Regions from separate parts of the Homo sapiens genome. Here region 2 is linked to region 1. The links come from fine-mapping of genetic effects on gene expression. Tissue or cell type: whole blood. Region 1 holds a variant in brackets; the other region holds the start of a gene. All regions are shown on one strand. Distances are between the middles of the regions. Region 1 overlaps MYT1 (myelin transcription factor 1). Region 2 holds the start of PCMTD2 (protein-L-isoaspartate (D-aspartate) O-methyltransferase domain containing 2).

Region 1 (4,389 bases):
ACAAAAGAATGACAAGGTCCCCTAAGCAGGGGAGCTCAGGGACAGCAGAGGCCTGTCACCCCACAGCCTCCCAGACTGAGGCCAGTGCAATCAGGGGGCAATGCCCATAGATGTTGCAGCTTTGCCACCACTGAGATCTATGTTCTAGAAGGAAGAACGCAGACCTCATGTGGGGGAGACTCGCTACCCATAATCACTCGTGCCTGAGGCTGGCCTTAAATGGTGTTTTCCTTTCCTTCGTTCTGGGTGTTCCAGGAGAGGGATAGAGGCCCTTATGAAAATAACATAAATTCAGATTGGCAAATGCCTTGGGCTCAGTGTGGGTCAGAGACAAACAGGACAGCGCAGAGGGCCCAGGCCCATGACCTCTCTGAGTGTCTGTCCCCACTGCCTCAGGGAAGGACCTGGACCAGGACTTGGGGAGCTGAGGGACCACGTCATCCAGGAACCCACGCCAAACCCAGGACAAGATCTTCAATCTGCAAGGCTCATTCTTATCTCTTCATAAATGAAACTCATCCAAATTACCGTTTGTCACACACTCCCTGTGTGCTGATTACCTGGCAACACAAGACCCCGAGAGGTCACCATGGCTCCATTTACGAGGAGATTCATGGGCATACAGGGAAGTCACTGTCAGCGCAGGAAGCGCTCGGGAGGACGGTAGCAGGGGGCGGGGGCGGGGGCAGAGGCTCCCGCCGTAGGGGTGAGAGGCGGCTCAGGGCTGCGCTGCCCAGTGGAAGGTCAACAAGGCCTGGACAGGGAGGGCAGCGTCCGGCTCCTTGCCCCCACACTCTGGCCTCGTCTCTGAAGCTGCCGTTTCAGACCCTTCCCAGCCAACTCGGCCAGGACCCTGCTTTCTCTCTCTCCACAGGCCCCTCTCTTGGTTCTTTTCCCTTTGTTACTCATCCCACCCACCTGGCCCTCAGAAACTTTTAGGACATTCCCTGAGCCAGTCCGAGGTCACCTCATCCCCGTCCAGAGCAGAGACACTGCCAGGGGCCCCTATGGGAGCTTTGGGAAGTTCACATTCAATGTCCAGCCCCCCTCTGATGGGGATGGCCCAGCCATGGGACCCTGGGGGACACCTGCACCAGGCACAGACTGGCTGGGAAGAGGCTCTGTGGCCAAATGGGGGGTGGCTGGCTCTTCAGCTACTCTACACAGTCGAATCTGAATTATTATTAGTAGTAGTAGTAGTATTTTTGAGATGGAGTCTCGCTCTTGTTGCCCAGGCCGGAGTGCAGTGGCACAATCTTGGCTCACTGCAACCTCCGCCTCCCGGCTTCAAGCGATTCTCCTGCCTCAGCCTCCCGAGTAGCTGGGATTACAGGCGCCCGCCACCACGCCCGGCTGATTTTTGTATTTTTAGTAGAGATGAGGTTTCACCATGTTGGCCGGGCTGGTCTCGAACTCCTGACCTCAGGTGATCCACCCGCCTCAGCCTCCTAAAGTGCTGGGATTACAGGCATGAGCCACAGTGCCCGGCCCAAATCTGAGTTATTTTCACTCCCTTTCTTGCAAAACACTACTCCCCTTCATCAAGGGAAACTGTTTTTGTTCCCTTGAATCGCATACATGGAGAGGATTTCAGATTTCAGGTATGTTCTCTTTCTCACAAAACCTGGTGTGGAGACTTTCAAGCTGTCAGGGACATCATGTTGAGAGGTGCTGGGGCGGTGGGGGCAGGCACTGAGCTGGTGAGGCCTCTGTGCTTCTTGGGTGAGCTAGTGTTTCCTATCACGTGTTGGGGGGCAGAAGCCGTGTGTGCCAGTGACATGAGAAACATGGCCAGGACCAGAAGTCCCCTCCAGGGACAGTGGGCAGGGCAAGGGGAGCATTCACCTCTTGACTCCCATGCTGGAACCTCCGCAAGACTTTTATGACCAGTTATAAAGCTGTGGCAAAGGGATTTACCACCAAGCGCCTGATGTGACTTAATTTTAAATAGCGCAGGCAGGAGATATCATAAAAAGGACTCCTGTTCCACCAGGCTCCCCAAATCACAGCTCATGCATGCTGACGAAATCCCATCCCTCAGCATGACCTGACACATCCATTCCAGTTTCTGCTTTGATATGCATCTGTTTAAATATGCTAGGCAATTACAAGTGCAGTTAAAGTTTATGGCTGGGAAGGAACCCTGTAAAACGGAGGGTTCAGTAGTCAGGTTCCCTCTGCCATGGAGCCTCTAGGACCTTCCTCTATCCTGCAAATGCTGAAGTGTTTCTGAAAGTCACAGTCTCCACTCGGCTGCAGAACTCTTGTTTTTTTTTAAAGCTCAGTTGACAGCACATTAGAAAGGAAAACCATTTTTCCTGGTTAATTTGAAAAATGCTGATCTTGATTTTAATCATTTGCAAATGCAGCACGATTCACTTATAATATCCCTGCCAGCAGGATCCTTGCCAAATCCATAAAGGTGTTGCACTTATATGATCATAGGCAAATTCCTGGATTCTCAGGGGCAAAATGCTTTTTATCCACCTCAGCATTTAGTGTGCGACCTTCATAGTACTAACAACCAAAATTTTGCATTGTTAATTTAGCATTCATTACAGTTTTATT[G/A]TAAAAATTAAATAAATAAACAAGCCACAGCCTATTACACCAAACAGCTGGTGGGCCCATCCCCGTCTGAAGGATGTGATGTTGGTCAATTAGGCTCCTCCAGTGTGGCCGGGTGTTTGGGCACAGCTGGAGCAAACTACCAGGAGGAGCAACCCAATCTCAGGCCAAGTTGCCCCTCCCCGGGCGTGAGGTCTGGCTGCTCTTGGCCCAGCAGGTAACACAACGAGGGCAACCTGCTTCCTGCGGGCATAGTAGGGCCCCGTCCCGACCGAGCCGGCCCCTAACCCTGGGCAACAAGGTGTCCAGAGCCATCATTTCCACTCTGCTCACCTGCTGGGGAACCCACTGCCCATTTTGCCAGATGTCAGCTCTGAAAGTACCTCGGTCCTGGGCAAAATGGCCAGTGGGTCACCTGGTCTGAGTCTGTAGCAAAGCATTCCCCCCACCTAAAAGTGGGCAGTGCAGGGGACCCGTTCCCTATTGGGAGAATAAGCTTGTAAGGACACAAACCCCCACCAAGTAGGATAACACACAGAGTCAGGGTTCACCTATAAGCCCCACAAAGACACACGAGCCCCCACCCTGCCCCAGTGAGAAGAGCAATAGAGGAGAATCTTTTCTCCTCAAGGACTTGGGTCACTTAAGGCCCAAGATGTCCTCTTTCCTTCACCCAACAGTGTCTGGCTCCCAGTTTAGATCCTCCTGGCTCTCTCAATCTACCAGCTCTCTGCACAGGTGTGTGGGTGGATGGACACATGGGATTTGGAGCTTCAACATTGTTCTAACCACCTTCTCCTCCTTGACTCCTGCATCTCACCTTTCCTGCCAGACAAATTCTGCAGGTTGCAAGGCCCTGGGGCCCACTCCCAGGTGGCCCTAAGACATAGGTAGAAGGGTGCTCTGCCTCTCCCAGCCCCGTCAAATACTCCAGACCTGAAAAGCCCAGAAAATCTGGCACCCATGCCCTCCACGCGACATCCAGGGCTCCTATCTTCACAGGTATCAACGTGTAGCGTATGAGAGCTTCCATAAAAATGAAAGAAACGAAAGTTGGCGTTGGTCAGTTAGGTGACCCGTTGTATTAATGAAAAGGGAATCTAGTAGGAGTTTTTTTACATTATAAAACACACGAAAATCTCAATTCCGCAATGCAATGAAAGAGCCAGCATGGCCCAACGTACTTCATCAGCTCGGGGTCCTCCTTGTCGTCCTTGGTGGGTGCCACCTTGACTCCACTTTTCTTTGCACGAGGGCAGCCGGACAAGCTGATTTCGAAAGAGGAAAAAAGGCCACCTTAGTGCTGGAACCGCAGCTTCTCACACCCGTTCATCTCACCCTCTCCCCTCAAGCTCTGTGACCCCAGGGTGGGGTGGGAGGGAGTGAGGGCAACCGATGGGTCAGTTGTAAGAAGCAGAATCCACAGACACAGCCTTCACACGAGGCAGCAGGGTCGGGAAGGAGAAGCATTACCACGAGCCCCTAGCCCTGACCCCTTGTCTTTTTATCTTACTGCAGAGGACAACTTAATCAGGTTCTGGAAATGGCAACAATTCAGATTAAAGAGATGGGAATGGACTCTAGCTGTCAGCAACATTAGTGTCTTCTAATCTTCATATAAGGAAGAGACTCCCTGCCCACCCCTGGGGCCCAGGACCTGAGGGTGTGGCAGGCTCACCTCCGGTGTGAAGCGTAGTTCCCTGTGATGTGGCCAGAGCCGTCACAGCCGGGCGTGGGGCACCTGCAGAGGGAAGCAGAACTGGAACGGGAGCCCGTGAAGGCGTTTAGCCCCGGCCCAGAGCCCTGGGACCCCCAGAGGAAAGC
Region 2 (4,389 bases), 26 kb before region 1:
TGTTGGATAGGTTTCATTTTCCACTAAGTAACTATCACTTATTTTGAACTCTGCCTTAATTTGAAAGTTCAGACAGCTTTTTAGTAAAAACAAGCACCTTTTTCCAGGTACCACCTGCCAGTCATGGCCTCATTTACACTTCACAACATTAAGAAGCAAATTGGAGCTGGCCGGTTAATTTGTTCATGATCACATAGCCAGTTTGTGAGGAGGGGGCTGCATTCAAACCCAGGACTGTATGGCAAAAGGCCTGTGTTTTTAATACCACACCAGTGCAGCTTTTAAAAATACTCAAGACAGCAACGTTCTTTACCACACAACACACCGGTAACCTTTTGACGATGGGGTAACCCTATCTATACCTATTGCCACTGGTAGGATCCATGTGAATAGCTGTGGGGTCTGATATTTATTACCATCTTTGTCTGGTAATCTAACACTCCCTCGCACTGAAAACCATCGATATGATCAGTCATGATGTCACCAAAAACACCGACAACAAAGCTCTTCGCCAAACCAAATCCTATCATTTTCACCCAGATTCTACAATCTGGTCAAATCCAATTTTTCAAAGTAAAAGTGTAGAATCATTTTTAGAACGCTGCACTCGATGATACTGTGCACATTGTCTGCTGTAATTAATCCTTAATATAATTCACTACTCTGTGGTAACTAGCAACAGTCCATAACAACCTGGCTGCTCCTTACAATGCGAACTGCCAGGGCACATGAAGAACACTTGCTGAGTGGCGACAGGCATGGGAAGGTCTCAGAACTGACACCTGAGTTGTGATTGTGGCTGTGTCAACACAAGCATGAAGCTATGGTAGTGGGGTTTTGGGAGGCGACATACGGAAGATCACATTCCAACTTGGATGTCACTTCTTTAGGGTAATATGGACAAAGTAATTCATTGTGGAAGATGAGTGGGGAAAAGGACCCAAAGCCACATCTCCTTTGGGCAGAATGATCAAACAAACACACAAACAGATTTCTCACCTTGAAAACCAGAACTCTTACAAGCAATGCAAAGGGACTTTTTTCAAATACAGATGGTCTCCGACTTCGGATGGTTCGACTTCAGGTTTAACGATGTGTTTACTGGGATGCGACCCCACCGTAAGCCGGGGAGCACCTATACTTGAAAGGCTGTCACATGTACACTATTAATGGGCCTAACAAAAGCCAGACCAGTGGTACATGTTGGAGACAATGCCTACTAAATACACAGAGAAGCTTTCTAACAAATGAAGTTGCAATGAATGAAAGGAGCTCTTGATAAGCCCAGCCAAGTTCCACTGGAGGTACGAGCTGGGGTGGCGCAGGGAGCAAGGCCCTGGATCGGTCACCTCTGAGGTCTCCTCTCATCACCTGAGTGTAGGGCTCTATTTCCCCCAAGCGTGGCCACAACAATTTCTGAGTTGCTTATAGGCACCTCAACTTCACTCATTCTTGAATGACAGTCTATCAAACGCCCAGATAGGAGCTGTTTAGCCATTCCCTTGAGAAGAAAAATGAAAACTATTCTAGTCACACGAGTAAAGAGGGGGTGGATAAAGAGGGCGTGGATATTTAGGTGACTTATTTGAGGTGCAACGCTGGAGCAAACATTCATTTAGGAGACACGTCCCTCTCACAAAAACAAAACAAAGGCCCGAAGCTCAGGCAAGTTCTCCTTCCTCCAACTAACAAAGATCTCTTTCCATGCGTGAATTGAAGTCCCAGTGCTCTGCTCCAATTCTTACTATCTCCAAGGCACGGGGCGGGGGGGCGCAATTATTTTTTTAAAAAATCCTGTCATCTTCTGAAAGGGTCCAAGGCAGACTTTGTTCTAAACCTTAGCTCTTGGCTTGCCTTGGAACTGCAAACGTTTCCCACTTGGGAAGTCAAAGACAAGCTGCAGGTCTGGACTAACCAGACCCAAGAGTGTGAGTGAGCAACGGGCACCGGGAGAGACCGACGGGAAACCGCGAGCGCTCGGAGAGAGAAACGCGGGACGCCCTGGAGGCCGCTGGGGGGAGGTGAGGGTGCCCGAGGTGGGGAGGAGCGACGCCCCCAGAGGAGAGCTCCGGGCGCAGGGGTGCCGGGGGTGGGGAAGGAGGAGGGAAGGGGCCGAGGGGACACACCACCCGCTCGCCGCAGGCCGGACCGAGGGGCGGCGGCGGCGGCGGCGGCTCTACCTCCAGGCTCGGCCGGCCGACGGGTTCGGACCGCCTGGGCTGCCACCTGCAGCTCCTCGGGCGCGTCCCTCGTGTGTCCGCGGCCGAGCAGCGCCGCTCCAACCTCGGCCGCCGTAAACATCCGCCGCCGCCGCCGCCGCCGCCGCCTCTGCGCCTGCGCACAACGGCCTGACTGCGCATGCGCCGCGGGCCTGGCACTTAAAGGGGTGATGGCGGCGCAGGGCGGGCCCCACTCCCCTGGGCTGCCTGCGTCCGCCCGCCCCGCTGAGAGCTCGCTGAGCCCTAGGCCGGGTCCGAGTCTCGCGGGCGCGCCGTCCGCGCAGTGCTCAGCCAGGACGGACCCCGCACGGGCTGCCTCAGAAGCCCTCCCTAAGGGTCACCTGAGACGCCTTTGCTGACCCACGGCTGGGGGCGTTCCGCATCTCCAGGGTGCCCTGCGGCTGCTGACTCGGGGCCGGCGCTGCCCTCGGGCGGCCTCCCAGCACCAAGCACAGCCGCCCTGGGACCCCCGCCCTGCCACGCGGACGGCCACCCGGCCCTGGGGCCCTCCTACCCAGCCGGCTTTGTGAAATCAGCTGTGAAAGGAAGATATCCTGGGCCCCCAAGATCACTAAGGAAAACTCCAGCAGGAAACTGCTTAGGGCAGGCCTGCTTCCCATTCCATTCAAAGTCACTCCTCTGCTCACTTAGATAGATACATATCTGATTTGCCTCCTTTGAAAAGGCAAATGAGAAACTCAAAAGAATTTAACCGTTGGTGTCTCACCTATCTGTGGCCTGGACGCTCCCTCCCCGCTTGGAGTCTTCCTGCCTTTGCTTCAAGTTGTCCCGTCTTTCCAGACCGAACCGATGTGCTTCTTACATGTATCGATGGATGTATCCTGTCTCCCTAAATGTATAAAACCAAGCTGTGCCCCGACCACCTTGGGCACATGTCAGGACTTCCTGAGGCTGTGTCACGGGCGCGTCCTCACCCTTGGCAAAATAAACTTTGTAAATTAACTGAGACCTGTCTCCCATTTTCTGGGTTCACACAGCCCATTGCCCAAACTTCGCGTGGGGCTTTGCAGATAGGCTGTAGCTGCAGAACCCTTTCTTCAAGCACAGCCATGCAAGCCGCCTCATATGTGCAAGTGCCAGCGTCGCTGGGGCGGACGAGTGGGCCTGGGTCTCCGGTTCCCGCCTCCCTCCTAACTCGGCATTCCTCCCCAGACCCTGGAGCTCCACTTAGGAGCAGAGTTTGAAAACCAAAGGCCGGTGCCTTCACCACGTTATGTGGTCCCAGGGAGACCTCACTTCTCTTGTTGATCCATGGTCCTGGATCCACGGACCTGAGGTGGCCCACCACCTCATGACCTTCATGGGGCTCTCAGTGTCCTTCCACCTGAGAGCTTGTGGTTATTTGTGACTGTTTCAAATTACAGAAGCCCTGGAGTCATCCTTGACTCTCTTCCTACTGCCAGGGGACACGTCCTCCATACATCCCTCCTTGCCCTGTCCCAGCTCCCCTCACCTCTCCCCACCCCTCCCACCATTCCCCTGGGCTCTGGCGAGTGGTCCTCCTAAAACAGGTGATCACATCACTGCTGTCTTCAGACACTCCCTTTGTTCCTGGACCCAACTGAGGGTCGGGCTACTACTTCTCCTGGCCCAATAACAAGATGCAAATGAGCTGGAGAGTAAGAGAGGTTTTATTTCTGTAACCGGTTACAAGGAGAAGGCCTGGAAATTATCACCATACCAACTCAAAATTACAAAGTTTTCCAAAGCTCGTATACCTTCTAAGCTGTATGTCTACATGTAAGTGTGCATTCATCTACAGACATAAGTGATTAACTTCTTTTAATCTATGACTAAGGTTGAGTCCTGAAGACCCTCTTCTGGAGCCTCAGTAAGTTTACTTAATCTAAATGGGTCTAGGTGCTGGGGTGATTACCCTTATCTTGTCTCCTGCTAAATCATAATGATATGGGGAATTCCTTTAGACCCCCATAAACTTGTTTGTGGAGGCCTGGGGAGTTTCTTCAGATCCCTAATACAACTTGTTTAATCCTAAAAAGGGTCCTGTTAAGAGTTCCTTCGTTATCTTGTCATGCTTCAAGGCCCAGGAAGAGCCTAGGCAAAACTCTTGGTGGGCTCTTTGTTACATTCCAACCTTTGTATAAGGGCATTGGCTCAATCAGCTTTTAATGTTTAACCTGGCTACTCA

Evidence for each region. PIP is the estimated chance that this variant, and not a neighbour inherited with it, causes the effect.
Region 2: PCMTD2 starts here. The variant in region 1 is fine-mapped to the expression of PCMTD2 in whole blood (TOPMed, PIP 0.99).

Annotation. Positions count from the first base shown.
Region 1 is chr20:64,227,332-64,231,720 of GRCh38, reverse strand. MYT1 (myelin transcription factor 1) reads right to left here. Exons shown (of 23, transcript NM_004535.3): 17 at 4,244-4,306; 18 at 3,750-3,833. Among named protein-coding and RNA genes, the nearest start is that of PCMTD2, 26 kb to the left of the region's middle. The variant G/A (reference allele first, on the strand shown) is at 2,569.
Region 2 is chr20:64,253,662-64,258,050 of GRCh38, reverse strand. It overlaps PCMTD2 (protein-L-isoaspartate (D-aspartate) O-methyltransferase domain containing 2), which reads right to left and starts at 2,303. Exons shown (of 6, transcript NM_018257.3): 1 at 2,181-2,303.